2 separate regions of the Homo sapiens genome follow, and region 1 is linked to region 2. Evidence: fine-mapped expression QTL. Tissue or cell type: sun-exposed skin. Region 2 holds a variant in brackets; the other region holds the start of a gene. All regions are shown on one strand. Distances are between the middles of the regions.

Region 1 (8,101 bases), 33 kb after region 2:
CAGGGCCCTGCTGCCCAGACTCTGCCCAGAGACGGCTCCTTGGGTGGTCAGGTGCATGGGGGGCCTATGTCCTAAGCAGCTCGGGATGGGGCTGGGAGGAGGCCGCAGCTTGTTCCAGGAACACAGCTGTATCCCCACAGGTGAGGGATGTTAAGCGTCCCTGTCAGCAAGTGCCCGTCTTTCCTGAAACTGGGTCCACACCAAGCCTGTTCTGCTGAATGAGGCTGGCCGGGCTGTGGGCTTGTCACGAGCTCCACTGCTGAAGACGGTGCCCTCTAGTGGCAGCTGGCACCTCTGCTGACCTCATTCATGCGCCTCACACACACAGTGCCCGTCCCATCTCTCATCACTGGGGTCCCAGTGTGTGCCTGAAGAAAAACCACACCACATGGATGAAAGCAAACCCACTCGAGACAGAGCCCCAAACTCCAAGTCTCATTTTGCCCAAATCTGAGTTTTATTTTTGCTGGAATCAGGTCATCTGGCCTGGCTGTCCCACCAACCCAGCTGGGAGCCTCTGAGTGGCCTGCCAGCAGCATCTCATTACAAAACAGCCCCCTGGAACCAGGTAGCCAAGGAAGCGGCCCACCTGAAAGGCATTTAGATTGAGAAGAAAAACTGCACCTTCCTGACAAAGGTCAGGGGTCACGGTGAAGGGAGGGCTGCTGGGATCACAGGGACAGCAGCATCTTCTAGCAGCTTGGCCATACCAGCCACTGAGGTCCTAACTGCAGCCAAGGGGCCGTTCTGCACATGTCGCTCACCCTCTGTGCTCTGTTCCCCACAGAGCAAACGCACATGGCAACGTTGGTCCGCTCAGCCACTGGTTCTGTGGTGGAACGGTGGATGTCTGCACTGTGACATCAGCTGAGTAAGTAACAACGACTGAGGATGCCGCTGACCCAGGGCTGGGGAAGGGGACTCCCAGCTCAGACAGGCTTGGCTGTGGTTTGCTTTGGGAGGAGAGTGAACATCACAGGGAATGGCTCATGTCAGCCCCAGGAGGGTGGGCTGGCCCCTGGTCCCCGGGCTCCTTCTGGCCCTGCAGGCGATAGAGAGCCTCAACCTGCTGCCGCTTCTCCTTGGCCCGGGTGATGGCCGTCTGGAAGAGCCTGCAGTAGAGGTGCACAGCCAGCGGAGAGTCGTCATTGCCGGGTACAGGGTAGGTGATGAGGCAGGGGTTGCAGTTGGTGTCCACGATGCCCACTGTGGGGATGTTCATCTTGGCTGCGTCTCTCACGGCCACGTGTGGCTCAAAGATGTTGTTGAGCGTGTGCAGGAAGATGATGAGGTCCGGCAGGCGGACCGTGGGGCCAAAGAGGAGGCGCGCGTTGGTCAGCATGCCGCCCCTGAAGTAGCGAGTGTGGGCGTACTCGCCACAGTCACGGGCCATGTTCTCAATCAGGTACGAGAACTGCCGGTTGCGGCTTATAAACAAGATGATGCCCTTGCGGTAGGCCATGTGGGCGGTGAAGTTCAAGGCCAGCTGGAGGTGCGTGGCTGTCTGTTCCAGGTCGATGATGTCGTGGTCCAGGCGGCTCCCAAAGATGTACGGCTCCATAAACCTGCCAGAGACCCCACCAAGGCAAGGGGGATGAGAGTTCACGGGGCCATCTCCACTGGCTCCTTGCAGGAACACAGACGCCCACCAGGGACTCCCGGGCTCCTCTGTGGGGGCACTATGGGCTGGGAAGCACAATTTGCAACGCTCCCCGTGTGCATGGACAGCAGTGCAGACCCATCCAGGCCACCCCTCTGCATGCCTCGTCTCGTGGCTTAACCCCTCCTACCCTCTACCTCTTCCCGAAGGAATCCTAATAGAACTGACCCCATATGGATGTGTGGACATCCAACATGACGCCAAAAGGACATTCTGCCCCGTGCAGCTCACAGGGCAGCCGCCTCCGTCACTGTCCTCTTCCCGAGGCTTTGCGGATGAGGCCCCTCTGGGGTTGGACTTAGCGGGGTGCTCTGGGCCAAAAGCATTAAGGGATCAGGGCAGGAGTGGCCAAGCCTGGGCGGGGAACCCTGATCCAAAGCACTGGACCACTGCTGGCCTGGGCTGAGAAAAGCGGGGCATGGGAGACACCCCCGCCTCTCGGTGCGTGACAGGCGAGTCATCCACATTTGCGGTTCCCAGGTCCTCACCTCCAGTCTACTCCCACTGGGTTCTGTCCCTTCCTCTCAAGCAACCCTGCCCATCAAGGCACTGGCGACCTCCATCTTGCCAAGGTCACAGCCTTGAATTCACTTCTCAGCAGCATCAACAGAGAACCACATCTCCCCTACCCCCGGCTGTCCCTCTTCACTGACTCCAAACACTGGAGCACCCAGGGCTCCACCTTGGACCTCCTTTTCCGATGCTCTGGAAACACCTGCCAGCCCCCGATGCTGATGGCTCCCTGGGCCCAGGCCCATCCCTCCTGGTAACCGTGTGACCTCTCCACTGGGGCAGCAAAGGGTTCATACCTGGTAGGAACCAAGCTTGTGATGTCCCCCAGGTCTCCCCTGGTTTTCACCATCTCAGTAACCAGTACCAGGCTCCACCCGAAGAGCAGGTGTTTGATCCCTTCGGCCCCAGCCACCTCCCACCCCAGCCCAAGGCCCACTGGCTCTGCCCTGCTGCCTCATGTCCACCTGCTGCTCCAGCTCTTCCGCTACTGCGATTTAAGCCCCGCCACCTTCACCCTGAACGCCCACACCAACCTCCTCCCTGGCCTCCCACCTGCCCCTCCCATCCCCTCCCCCCACAGCAGTCAAAATGACCATGTGAGAATACAGGACCAGTCATTCCTCCTCCCCGCAGCCCAGAAGGCCCAGCCCGATCCGGGGGGACCAACCTTACAGGTTCTGCCCTCAGCCTTTCCATTTCTGAACCCGTGGAGTCCTGCAACCCCCAGCAGGCCTGCCCTATCAAGGGCTGTGAGCGCCACACCAAGGCACACAAGAGCGTCCGCCAAGCTGAGGAATAAACTCCTGCTTCTCTGTGGGGCTCTGTATTCCCATGTGGAGGAGGATGGGGCTGTAATCACCTAAAACTGACATAGGCCAGTTCAAAAGTGGCCCTAGAACCAGAGCAGGTCCCAGGTTCCTCCTGGGAACCGCCCCGGGCTCAGATGGGGGTGTCACCTACCTGTGCCGACAGCCAGCTTTGTGTCCCAGATGGACTCGGGCATCGAAGAGGCTTCTCACGGAAAACAGTTCCTTGACATTGAAGAAGTCAGAGTGCTTGAGGGGCTCATTCAAAATCTTGTCGTTGAAATCTACGGCAGGGAGGAGGAGCGACGCTGCGTCTCCCACCGGTGGCAGCAGAGACAGGCAGAGCGCAGTTCCCGCCCACCCCTGCTCCCAAGTGCCTTCTGTGACACCGAGGTGGGGAGCCGGGAGCCCAGCAGCCCCAGGAAAGACCTGGAAGCACAGGGACCTTTTCAGGAAACAGAGGGCTGGAGCCAGGTTCTGATCCCGACCTTGCTCCTGGGTAAGCCTGGTCGAACCTGGTCAACCCCGTCCCTTGGTCTTACTTGGAAGACAGAGGAGAAAAAGAGAGGGGCCCAGCGGGTTGCTCAGGTCTTTCTGGCACCTCCCCGCCTTGTGGTCTCAGGTGGCCAGCCAGAAAGTCCCCATCAGGAGTCCAGCAAGGTGGGCAGACTCCAAGCCCAGTGCCCCCAGGTCACTTGGGCCCGCCTGGGCGAGCTCGGGGCTCCGGGCCTCGGTGGTCCAGTGACACCCCCCTAGGGAGCGAAGCCTGTGCTAACCACTGGCCCGCCCGCTCCCTCTCACCCTATCCATGGTGAGGCGGTGGCCTCAGCCCGCTGTGCTACGTCAGGCAGGACCGAGCGGCGGCGAGCACGGGAGTGGGAGGAGCCCAGCGGAGCGCGCAGTTTCGACCGCGTGCAGCGCCCAGGCCCCTCTAGGGTTCGCATCCCCCGCGGCTGCCGGCCTCTCCTCGTTCCCACCCAACTCGGCTGGGCGCCCAGTGTTACCGGTGCTGTCCTCCGACTCGCGGATCATAAGGGCCGTCGCGCTTCCAAGCGTCCTGCGGCTCGGCCGAGCAGGCCGGGGGGTCGCCTTCCCGAGAAAGCCCAACCAGCGCGACGGGGCCCGGGCACCTGGGGGGAAGTAGATAGAGGTCCTGGCGCCGAGTCCCGAATGCACCACGCCCGCTCCCCACCGCATCCCCAACGGGCCCCTCCGCGTCCCTAACGGGTCCCCTCCGCGTCCCCGCGCCCTCCCCGAGTCCCCTCCGCGCTCGCCCCGGGTCCCCTCCACGTCCCCGCCGCTCCATCGGGTCCCCGCGCCCCTCCGCATCCTCCTCGCATGCTCCTCCCCAGGGTCCCGCAAGCGCGCGCTCACCCGCGCCGAGTATTCGGGGCAGCGCGGCCGAGGATGTCGCCATGGCTGGGACGCGGGGCAGAGCGAGGTCTCCCTCCAGGCCAGGCCGAGCGGCCTCCCCTTCCGTCGCCATCCGCGCGGGGCCGCAGTGCCGCCTACAGGCCCGGAGGAGCCACAGCGCTGTCCCCAGGCGGCTGGGACCTCCCTGCGGGGGCGGGGCACGCGAGGGGTCAGGGCCCGGGGTCCTGGGCTTGAGAGTCTCGGGCGGGGAGTGGAGCCACGGTCCTCGCCCTGCAGCTCGCCCCGCCCTGCTAATGGGACCGGCCAGCCCGGGAGGCCCCTGACCCTTGGGGAAGCCCGCTGGGCGATGGGGACCCTCGCCTCCCGCCAAGTGAGCTGTGAACCACGTCCTGCGCAACCTCTCGCTCTCCAAAACTGTTTGTAATATTTAAACGATATTTGGCTTAGGAGAATTTCATAAAGTTAGCCAGATCTCGGGTCTCAATTTAGACTCGGGGTGCTGGGGGGCATAGCATCCCTGGAGTACATTGGACAGCAAAAGTCCAATCGTTGCCTGCCGAGTGGACCTGCAGTGCTTAAACCCCGTCACCCGGCTGGCGGGGTCCCAGGCCCTGGGGTTTCTTTCGCCCGGGAGTCCACGCCCTGATGCTGGGGTGGCCCGGTCCCCCCGCGGGTGGCTGGGGGCCTGGGGCTGCCTCACACGACGGTCCCAGCAGGGAATCTCTCGCCGTCCCGACCTTCCCGGCCCTTGGGGAGTCGCCCGGCAGGTTCCGGACCCACCCGCAGAGGAACCCGGCCCACGCGCGGCGCCTTTAAGGCCCCTCCGCTCGCTCCCCAGTCACGTGACCTGGCCGTCGCTTGGCAACAGGACGCCGCCGAGTCCCGCTTCTCCTCCAGGCACAATGGCTGAGGAATGCCCCAGAGCGTGCGCGGAGCCTGTGGCGCCCAAGGCCACGGCCCCGCCGGAGAGGACCAGCGACTACTACCGCGTGAGCGCGGACCTGCCGGGCAGGTTCAACAACCCGGGGTGGTTCCGGGGCTACAGGTGAGGAAGCTGGGGCCCGCCTGGTCCTGGCGTCCACTGCTCGATAGCCCCGTGTGTGAGAGACCCCGCAAGACCCCCAAGGTCCTAGCTACAGAAATCAAGAAGATCGAGTGGTCATCCGGGGCCCGCGCTGTCATCGCCCGCCAGTGAGCGGCGACCGTGCTCCCTAGAGCCTCATACAAGGAAGTGGGGATAAGGGCAGTGGGGGGCAGGGCCGTGGGGGGAGAAAGCCCAGTTGTGGTCTCAGCTCCACTGATTTGTGTCGGGTGAGTCTCCTCTCCTCTCTACCCTGAAACTCCGCTGCGGGGCGTGAGCACAGCAGCACCTCCACTGTCTTGCTGTAGACTCAGCCAGCTCTGAGCTGCCACAGGGCATTGCAGGCTAAGAAGTAGTAAGAAACTCAATTCCTGTAGGCAGGTGCAAACATCTTGCCGTGCTCATCACACATTTGGTCCCTCAACAGTCCTCTAGGGCAGGGTCTGTTAGTATCCTCATTCTCGCATTGAGATGACTGGGATGTAGAAGGAACAACTTGGCCAAGATCTAGGAGTATAAAGTAAAGCTATGTCGTGGGCCTGCAGCCTCTCAGTAGCCTGTCCTACTGACAGGTAGGGGCAGTGGTACCAGTAGAAGCATAGCCTCAGTGAGGGTGGGGGCTCAGAGGCAGAGGGACCCTCTGGGTGGCAGGGTCTGGAGGCCAAGCCTCCGCTCCTGACAAGCTAGGTTACCCAGAAATTGCAGCATGTGCCGAGGCCCTGCCAGGGCTGGGGATCAGCACTTGCTGGCTGCCTGCTCTTTAGGGCTTTGGCCTGCCTTGGAAGAGCAGGGACAGTGGCAAGCAGAGGGGGCCGGGGAGGCCGGGCCATTCAGAACGGTCATCAGCCAGGTACTCCCAGAGGCTGCCTTCGAGGCCACATCACCAGCCCGGGCATATTGCTCTTTCCATGGGGGCATTTCCAGGGGAGTGCCGTCAACCAAATACAAGGCTGTGGCTTGTGCAGAATTAGAGTAAATGAATGAAAATAGAGTGTTTCTCATCTACCAGGACCCAGAAGGCTGTCTCCGTGTACAGGACCAGTAACCAGGCTTACGGGAGCAGAGCCCCCACCGTGCACGAGATGCCTGTAAGTGGGATGCAAGACCGGGCATGGGGGGCAGGGGGTGGGTGGCCTCAAGAAGAGGCTAAAAACCTGGGGTTCTCAACAGGTCAACAATGAGACGGGGAGGGGTGCACCCAGGGAGGAGGCCAAAGTTCCAGCATCACAAATGGGGAGGAGGGAGGTTCCCAAAATCGCTTTGGGAGAGGGTAGGATGGAACTAAATGAGTGAATGAATTTGGGAGTGGAGTGTTTTAAAAGAGGAGGATATAGACTTGCTGACATCACCCTGCCCCCATACACCCAACCACACGCACAGCAGTCTCACACACACACACGCAACCATCTCCTGCAACTTACGGTGCTCAGTTCTGAGGCAAATAAATGAAGGGCTACTTTTTTTTTGGAATTGTACTTTATGAGATGTTAACGTGTAACCTGAAGAGGCAGTACTGGCTGACGGCACAGCTTGTGGGTGGGCAAGTTGTATTGGTGGGCACAGGAGTCTGTGGGCCATTGGGGAAGCCAAACCCTTTTTGAGCTTGACCTTAGGCTCCAGGATGGCCCTCCTAGAACCTCCCCACACCAAACCCCATGAAGGTCCAGGTGAATGGACAGAGGGACTAGTGCGGTGTCTCCTGCACACCTGGGACACTGGGCCAGCCATTCTGGGGTGAGAATGTTGTGGACGTATTTTCGTTGTCAAAGCATTCATCACTGAAAAGGTCTGGTGAGTGCTTATTTAGTTGTGTGGCGTGAGTGACTGAGCCCTTGTGAGAAGATTACTTATCTAAAAATGCTGGAGCATTTGAGAATCACTCTCCCGTAATCAGACGACCCTGAGTTTTCCCTGGGGATCAGGTATTTCTATGAAAAAGACCAGACACAGCTGGATGCGGTGGCTCACGCCTGTAATCCCAGCACTTTGGGAGGCTGAGGTGAGAGGATCACTTGAGGCTCAGAGATCAAGACCAGCCTGGGCAACGTAATGAGACCCCCATCCCTGTAAAAATAAAATAAAATAATTAGCTGGGTGTGGTGGCATGCACCTGTAGTCCCAGCTATTCAGGAGGCTGAGGGTGGAGGATTGCTTGAGCCCAGGAGGTTGAGGCTGCAGTCAGCCTTGATCATGCCATTGCATTCCACCCTGGGTGAGAGCCAGACCCTGTTACCAAAACAAACAAGCAAACAAACAAAAACCAAAAAAAAAAGAAAAAAAAACCCAGCACACTCACTAACATGGGTCCAGATGTTTTAGGTTTTATAAAAGGCCATGAAAAAATGTTCCTATTGTAAATGGTAGGAGCCTTCAGGTCACTGATGGGAGCAGGCAGTGGGGTAGGAGGCATGAGGTACTACTGACAAGTTTCCAAGGAGGTTCTCCTCCTTCTTATCCACCTGCTCCGTCTGGAGTCTCTTTTCCAGTTTCGTGACCAAGGGTGGATGCCGGAGAAGCTGTTTACCTCCCATGTGGGAATAGAAGATAAATGCTTTGCATTAAAAAGTGCACTGAAAGGCTGGGCGTGGTGGCTCACGCCTGTAATCCCAGCACTTTGGGAGGCCGAGGCGGGTGGATCACCTGAGGTCAGGAGTTTGAGACCAGCCT
Region 2 (8,101 bases):
TGAAATATATATCAAATAAAAATTTTAAAAACCACCTCCCCAGAGAAGCCTCTCCAGGCTACACAATGGAAGATGCAGCCCCTACTCTCCCTGTCACTTCCCTGAGCTGCGCTCCATTACGACACATCACTCCCCGGAGACACCCTGTTCATTTCCTTGCAGTCCTATTGATTGCCAATTCCCCCCATGGGCAGACTGAATAATGGTTCCCTGAAGATGTCCACATCCTCAGCCCTGGCCCTGTGGATGTGTGTATGTGGTAGACTGAATAATGGTCCCCTGAAGATGTCCACATCCTCATCCCTGGCCCTGTGGATGTGTGTATGTGGTAGACAGAATAATGGTCCCCTAAAGATGTCCACATCCTCATCCCTGGCCCTATGGATGTGTGTATGGTAAAAGGGACTTTGCAGATATAATTCAGGAAGGATCTGAGATGAGCAATTAGCCTGGATTATCTGGGTGGGCCCACTGTTATCACAGGGGCCCTTATAGGAGAGAGGCTGGGGAGCGAGGGAGGGAGAGAGAGAAGGGTGGGGAGAGAGAATATTTATGAACAGAAGTAGAAGAGGCTGTGCTGCTGGCTTTGAAGGTGGAGGAGGGGCCACAAGCCAAGGCATGTGGAGGCCTCTGGAAGCTGGAAATGGCAGGGACAGATTCCTCCCCAAGAGCCTCCAGAAGGAACCAGCCCTGCCAACCTTCGTTTTAGCCCCGTGAAACATACTGAAAAGAAGAGCTGGAATGAAGCATCTGAAGTTCTCTCAGCAAAACCTGCATGCTCGGTTGTGGTTGTGGGTTTTTTGACCAACAAATGAAAGCGTTCTAAGACCCCATGCACCGTCGGCTGAAGGGGAGCGTGAATATCTGTTCCCAGTCCCAGCCTCACAACCAGAGGATGCATTTCTTCACGGTTTTCTCCTGCAGCTCAAGGAGGGAAAGCACTTGGAATTATTTGACTTCTCCCCCTCACTCAGTGGAACTTTGGAGTCGTTCTTCCCACCCTTGTCAACCACAGGGCTTTCTCATGTCTACAGGCGCGTGTGCAGATTTCTTGGGTGTGCACAGATGCAGGGAGGGCATCTCGTCGATGGAAAATGGGATACTCATGGGCACGGCATGAAGTGACACCACAATTCCCTAAATTGTTTGCTGTGGTTGCTCATTGGGACGTGGCACCCACTGGAACCAAGGCTTTGGGAAGCCAACTGGCTGCTGTGCTTGGCCACAAACGTGGTAATCATGACTGCAAGGAGAAGGGGGCGGGGGCTGCCTGACTGATCTGGGGCTTTCAGAAAGGAAATGCCAAGGTCTGAGCTTGAGTAACAGGCAAGACACTGGAGACATTCCATCCTGACCATAGAATAATATTTCATTCTTGCAGCCACAGAGCAGAAATGGCTGAAAATCAGACTCCACATTTAATAGTGTGGGTTGCATGGTGAGTTGGATTCAAAAGTCGCCAAGTGTTTTATGTGAAAGTTGGGTCACTGCTTAAGGAGTGGGACCATGACACACAGAACTGGGACATTTATGTGATCTCAGATGGAAGTGAGAATCTTGATCCCCTCCCCAATCCCCCTGAACCTGCCGGGGCAGAATCACCCCCTCCTCCCCTCCCCAATCCCCCTGAACCTGCCTGGGCAGAATCATCCCCTCCTCCTTTGCGTGAGGAGATGAGACTTCCCTTTCTCAGACATCTTACCCCGAGGCAGTTGTGTCGGGATGGATTCTAGGGGCTTTACACCAGGAGAACCGCGCTCCGATGTGGACCCAAGCTGAGTGTGTCAGTGCGTATGTGCTGAGTGTGTCAGTGCGTATGTACTGAGCACGGCAGAGCTCTCAGCATGGATCGGCTCCACCCAAGCCCCTGCACCAGGAGACAGGAGATCGCCAAGCTCTCATGGCATCCAACAGCAGGAGGCGCATCCCTGGGGTGGCCCCAGCCCCCTAAATGCTTGCCTGAGAGCTCGGCACTGCAGGTGAATTTGCTGTGTGTCCTGGCCAGCACCCAGCTGCCCCTTCTTAGAGCTTTTGCTAAAAAGGGCTTACACCTGTGACTCCTTCCTCTGCCCCTTTGAGAAGTCTATTTCTCCTACAACGCAGAACTCTTTCTCAGGCTGGGTATGGTGGCTCACATCCGTAATCCCAGCACTTTGGGAGGCCAAGGTGGGTGGATCCCTTGAGGTCGGGAGTTTGAGACCAGCCTGGCCAACATGGTGAAACCCCCCCCCCCATCTCTATTAAAAATACAAAAATTAGCCAGGTGTGGTGGCAGGTGCCTGTAATCTCAGCTACTTGCGAGGCTGGGGCAGGAGAATTGCTTGAACCTGGGAGGTGGATGAGGTTGCAGTGAGCCGAGATCGCACCACTGCACTCCAGCCTGGGTGACAGAGCAAGACTCTGTCTAAAAAAAAAAAAAGAGAGAAAAAAGAAAAGAAATCTTTCTCAAGGACCTGAGAGCCATTCCTTAGAAATGTGACCTTCAGGAAGAATGGGCCTCCTTCTTCCAGACTCTGTTGGGGGACAGAGTCCTCCTTCCATAACTGCCACACAGCTGGCCCCACTGCACTGACCCTGACCAGCACTCTGTAACTCTTCACTGGAGCCCCCACTCCCTCCCGCACCCCCAACCACTCTCCCTTCAGAACACCCCTTCTCCCCTGCACAAAGTGGCATGGAACCAGTCTGTCCCTGGCTCTGAGAAGCTGCTGAATAAAACCTGTCCTCACCGCTTTAACTAGCGTCCAGCTTGGCTCACTGGTGATGATGTATCCAAAATGCCGTATTTCACACATTGGCTTGAGCAGGAGAGCAGCTCTCAGATGGCTTCCAGGACTGGCTGAGCTGGCGTCGTGACCTCATTCACAGGGGCTGGGACACCAGAGCGGCCCCACATAACATGGAGAAAGGACTCTGCACTGCAGGTGTTTGAAGGGTTCCCAGGGTTTGCTTTAGGCTGGTGGGGGAGACACAGCCATAGGAATGACTGTGGGACGGAGGCTTATTACACTTAGGCCCCTAGAAACAGGAGGGGCGGGGCCTCACAGAAGCACCAGAGCCTGTCTGGAGGCACTGGGAGCAGGAGGAGAGTGCGGGCGGAGCCTGCACTGCGGTTCCCACGTTTCCCACGGGAAGGAACAGAGGAAGCAGGGTAAACAGGCTCAGGGCGGGCTGG[T/A]TTCAATAATGTCCCGGGCCCTGGGGTGTGGGGGCTGGCTGTCCCTAGCTGTCTGGTCCCTGCCCTGGGGAGGGTGTGGGCTCTGGACTGGTTGGTTTGCATATGGAAGCACACTTACAGATGGTACCTGCCCTGGGGAGGGTGTGGGCTCTTGACTGGTTACCGGTTTGCATATGGAAGGCACACTTACAGGCAAGTCATCTGCTATTTCTAGAAATTAGCCAACTCCAGGAGAAGCACTTCCTCCAGGGTTAGCAAGGCTCCAGATGTCAAAGTGTCCAAATTCAGAAAGTAAAGGCCGTGGTTCACACAGAAAGGGTGTCAGAGACAGGTCACGCAGTCATTTGAAGAGCAAATTCCTGTAAAGAATCCCCAACTGGTAACAGGAGAGGGGTTACCAATGGGGAAAGAGGACTCTAAAACCACAGAAATAACAGAAATGGGAGCCAGCTCTACCCCAGGGCCGAGGCTGCGCACCGGGGTAGGAACAACCTGGAAGGCGCTCAGGCCTCCCTGGAGAGGGTGTGTCTGCGGCCCCGGGGATGGCACAGAAGTTTGCTGACTTTGGGTATCCAAGAACTCACCAAAAGCCACCCACGGGGCTACTGCTGACTTCACTGGGGCTGAGCTCCACCTGGCATCCAGCTTGCCAGCCAAGCCCCTCAGGACAGAGAATGAAGAAGACCCCTGAATCCAAAGGGAAGCCCCTTCCTCCAGCGACCCCCGTGCCCTCTGTTAACAAGGCCCAACAGTGCACCAGTTACGAAGGAGAAACGTCGACAGGGTTTAGCTCCAGTCACACGCAGGATAATTAAGAGCAAATTTGAAACTGAGGGGCAACAAACCCATAGCTGGCATAGAACCCCAATGGCCAAGGAATCAGAATGTGGGGGTGCACACTCACCCACCCCATCTGCTTCCCCATTGTCAATTTCTTCTCTTTATTATTTCCTTTCTTCTACTTTCTTTAGGCACAATTTGATCATTTCTTCTTAAGGTGGAGGCTTGGGCCATTGACTTAAGCATTTATTTTTCCTACTAGAACCATTTAAAGCTATAACCATTTAAAGCTATAACCATATAAAGCTGCCACCCCTGCAGCCTTAGCTTATGTGAGATTAGAGCTTTAGGTTACCAAGAGGGAAAGCTCTGCTACCAGGAAGCACAGTGAATGCTCCAGAAAACCTGCTGTGTTGGCTCCACCAGGCCACACTGGGATCCTCATGCCTGCAGATGAGCGGGTAAAGAACGGAGTTACTGTATACTAGTGGGTATTTTATACTGATTATGTATATTGGTGGGTAGTTGACCCTGATTATGTGTATTGGTAGGTAATGATCGACCCTGTTATGTATATTGGTGAGTGGTTGACTCCGATAATGTATACTGGTGGGAAATTGACCCTGATTATGTACATCGGTGGGTAATTGACCCTGACTGTGTATATAGGTGGGTAATTGACCCTGATTATGTATCTTGGTGGGTCATTATTGAGCCTAATTATGTATATTGATGGGAAATTGACCCTGATTATATATATTGGTGGGTAATTATTGACCCTGAGCATGCATATTGGTAGGAAATTGACCCTGATTATGTATCTTGGTGGGAAATTGACCATGATTTTGTATATTGGTGGGTAATTATTGACCCTGATTCTGTATATTGTTGGGTAATTGACCCTGATTATGTATATAGGTGGGTAATTTTCCCTGATTATGTATCTTGGTGGGTAATTATTGAGCCTAATTATGCATATTGATGGGAAACTGACCCTGATTATGTATATTGGTGGGTAATTATTGACCCTGAGCATGTACATTGGTGGGAAATTGACCTCAATTATATATATTATTGGGTAATTATTGACCCTGATTGTGTATCTTGGTGGGTAATTGACCCTAATTATGTATATTGGTGAGTAGTTATTAACCCCGATTATGTTTATTGGTGAGTAATTGACCCTGATTATGTATATTGGTGGGTAATTATTGTCCCTAATTATGTATATTGTCAGGTAATTATTGAACCTGATTATGTATCTCGGTGGGTAATTGACCCTAATTATGTATCTTGGTGGGTAATTGACCCTAAATATGTATCTTGGTGGGTAATTGACCCTGATTATGTATATTGGTGGGTAATTATTGACTCTGATTATGTTTATTGGTGGGTAATTGTTGACCCTGATTATGTATATTGGTGGGTTATTGACCCTGATTATGTATCTTGGTGGGTAATTGACCCTGATTATGTATATTGGTGGGTAATTATTGACCCTAATTATGTATATTGGTGGGTAATTATTGCCCTTGATTATGTAGATTGGTGAGTAATTGACTGATTTTGTATATTGGTGGGTAATTATTGACCCTGAACATGTATAGTGTGGGATAATTATTGATCCTGATTATGTATATTGGTGGGTAATTATTGACCCTGAACATGTATAGTGGGGGATAATTATTGATCCTGATTATGTATATTGGTGGGTAATTATTGACCCTGATTATATATAGGTGGATAATTGATCCTAATCATGTATATTTGGTGAGTAATTGACCCTGATTTTGTATCTTGGTGGGTAATTACTGACCCTGATTCTGTATCTTGGTGGGTAATTGACCCTGATTATGTATCTTAGTGGGTAATTATTGACCCTGATTGTGCATATGTTGGTAATTATTGACCCTAATTATTCATATTGGTAAGTAATTAACCCTGAATGTGTACATTGGTGGGTAATTGATCCTGATTGTGTATATTGGTGGGTAATTATTAACCCCGATTATGTATGTTGGCAGGTAATTGACCCTGATTGTGTATATTGGTGGGTAGTTAACCCTGATTATTGTGAGCTGGTGAAGTGGCTGCTACTTAGGATGAGCAGAGAGGAGTGAGTCTAAAATTCAGGAGATTCAGGGGAGCACCCACAGGTGCCTCCCTGCCCAGTGGTGACCATGACAAAGCCACTACAGTGACCAGAGCCTGATGAGAGCGCTGACCCAGGACTCAGACACCTTGGAGATGAATGTGCAGCTTTCCCACTGGGCAAACAACCCAGAGGGTGAAGGGATCCCAGAAATGCAATGGCCGATGAAGCTTCAGTGACGATCCCATGGGGCTGTGTGTATCTGTGCGGCTTGAGGGGTGGGGGACAGACAGTCATGTGAGACCCCAATGGTGTGCTCCCAGATGCATCCTCCTCGTGTACACAGGCAGCTCCCGGCCGCATGCCCCATGGCCCATGACTCCTCGCTTGAAGGTTTTCTCCGGATGCTGAAGCGTGCCCAGCCCACACCAGGCAGATTGCATTGCAGGCTGGTAATGTCCCTGTTGTGGCCCTCAACCCAGCACAGCCAGATTGGAGGGCAGAGCAATCTGAGTGTGCTCTACACAGGGCCGAGGGAGACCCCACCTGAGACCCTCACCTCCTGTGTTCTCTTTATAGTGACTCTAAACACATGATGGTACCTTTTTCCAGTCAAGATAAGCTGGATACATTTTCCCGCATTGGTAGTAACCAGTGACTCTACCTGCAGAGTGGGAGACATCGGTGACTTAGGCCATTTCTTAGCTCAAGCGTGCCCTCTCCTATTGGGATTGTGAAGTGCATTTTGCTAAATGGTGAGTTCCACTTCCCATCGTGGTCTAGGAGCTCCCATCTGACCAAGCCTCCCTCAAGTAGCAATGATTAACTCTGGACAAAATGCAGAAACCACTCTCCCTGGGCAAACAGACACTGCAGGTCGGTTAGCACCTGGAAGAAGGTGACAGCACTAGATGAGTTTCCCATTCTCACTGCTTTTATCTGGAGGGCAGTCCCTGTCTGCACCACATGGAGCAGATCAAGCTCTGGTAGACACCTTGCAATTTTGCTGGCTTGAAGAACCAGAGGACAGAGTCCTAGGCAATGATAGCTGCTGGAAAGTGAAGAGAGAAATTCAAGAAAGAAGAGAGCCAAAGAGAGAGCCCCAAGTTCTAGGCAGAAACCGTCCAAATCTCAGGCTAACCCCTAAAAAATGAACACACAGGAAAGACACGAAGCAGCCCAGCAAAGCCTAGAAGAACTGACTGAAATGTGAACTGAATTGCTGTGCACCACAGAAGAGGCAGAGCTGACAGCTGGAGGTCAAATAACTTCCTGCTTCAAAACAAAAACCAGGCCAGGCGTGTTGGCTCACTTTGGGAGGCCCAGCACTTTGGGAGGCCGAGGTGGGCACATCACCTGAGGTCAGGACTTTGAGACCAGCCTGGCCAACATGGCAAAACCCCGTCTCTACTAAACATACAAAATTTAGCCAGGCCTGGTGGTGGGTGCCTGTAATCCCAGCTACTCGGGAGGCTGAGGCAGGAGAATCGTTTGAGCCCGGGAGGTGGAGCTTGCAGTGAGCTGAGATCGTGCCACTGAACTCCAGCTTGGGCGACAAGAGTGAAACTCCTTCTAAAAAAACAAAAACCAAAAACCAAAAACCAAAAACAAAAACCAGCACTCTTTGCAGAAACCTAACAAAACCCAGAGTTTATACATCATTCAAACTGTTCAGGATACAATCCAAAATTATTATACACATGAAGAAAGGAAAATGTGACCGTTCTCAAGAGGACTGACTCGGAGCCAACATGGAGGCAGCAGAGAAACAGCGACTGCAAACAGCAATCAAAGGGATATTCTAAAACTAAAGATCACAACATATGGAAGGAAAATTCACCAGATACAGCGAAGAGAAAACTTGAGACACCTCTGTCAACAGGAAGATACATAAATAGAAATAATCCAGCCCTATGAATAAAGAGAACAAATATTGAAAACAAAAAGAGCTCGAGCCCAGGAGCTCCAGGCTGTAGTGAGCTATGATTGTGCCACTGCAGTCTGGCCTGGGCAACAGAGCAAGACCCTGTCTCTTTAAAGAGAGAGAGAGAGAG

Evidence for each region. PIP is the estimated chance that this variant, and not a neighbour inherited with it, causes the effect.
Region 1: it holds the start of MRPS2, and the variant in region 2 is fine-mapped to the expression of MRPS2 in sun-exposed skin (GTEx, PIP 0.95).

Annotation. Positions count from the first base shown.
Region 1 is chr9:135,497,006-135,505,106 of GRCh38, reverse strand. It overlaps MRPS2 (mitochondrial ribosomal protein S2), which reads right to left and starts at 4,425. Exons shown (of 4, transcript NM_016034.5): 1 at 4,354-4,425; 2 at 3,984-4,109; 3 at 3,134-3,263; 4 at 436-1,565. The coding sequence starts at 4,396. The coding sequence ends at 974. It overlaps PIERCE1 (piercer of microtubule wall 1), which reads left to right and starts at 5,238. Exons shown (of 3, transcript NM_001048265.2): 1 at 5,238-5,398; 2 at 6,444-6,522. The coding sequence starts at 5,256. LOC101928525 (a long non-coding RNA gene) reads left to right here. Exons shown (of 3, transcript NR_121579.1): 2 at 788-871; 3 at 1,406-1,834. RefSeq lists silencers at 770-924, 4,156-4,315, 4,526-4,695, 4,966-5,135 and an enhancer at 3,576-4,200.
Region 2 is chr9:135,529,540-135,537,640 of GRCh38, reverse strand. No RefSeq gene overlaps it. Among named protein-coding and RNA genes, the nearest start is that of LCN1, 12 kb to the right of the region's middle. The variant T/A (reference allele first, on the strand shown) is at 3,176.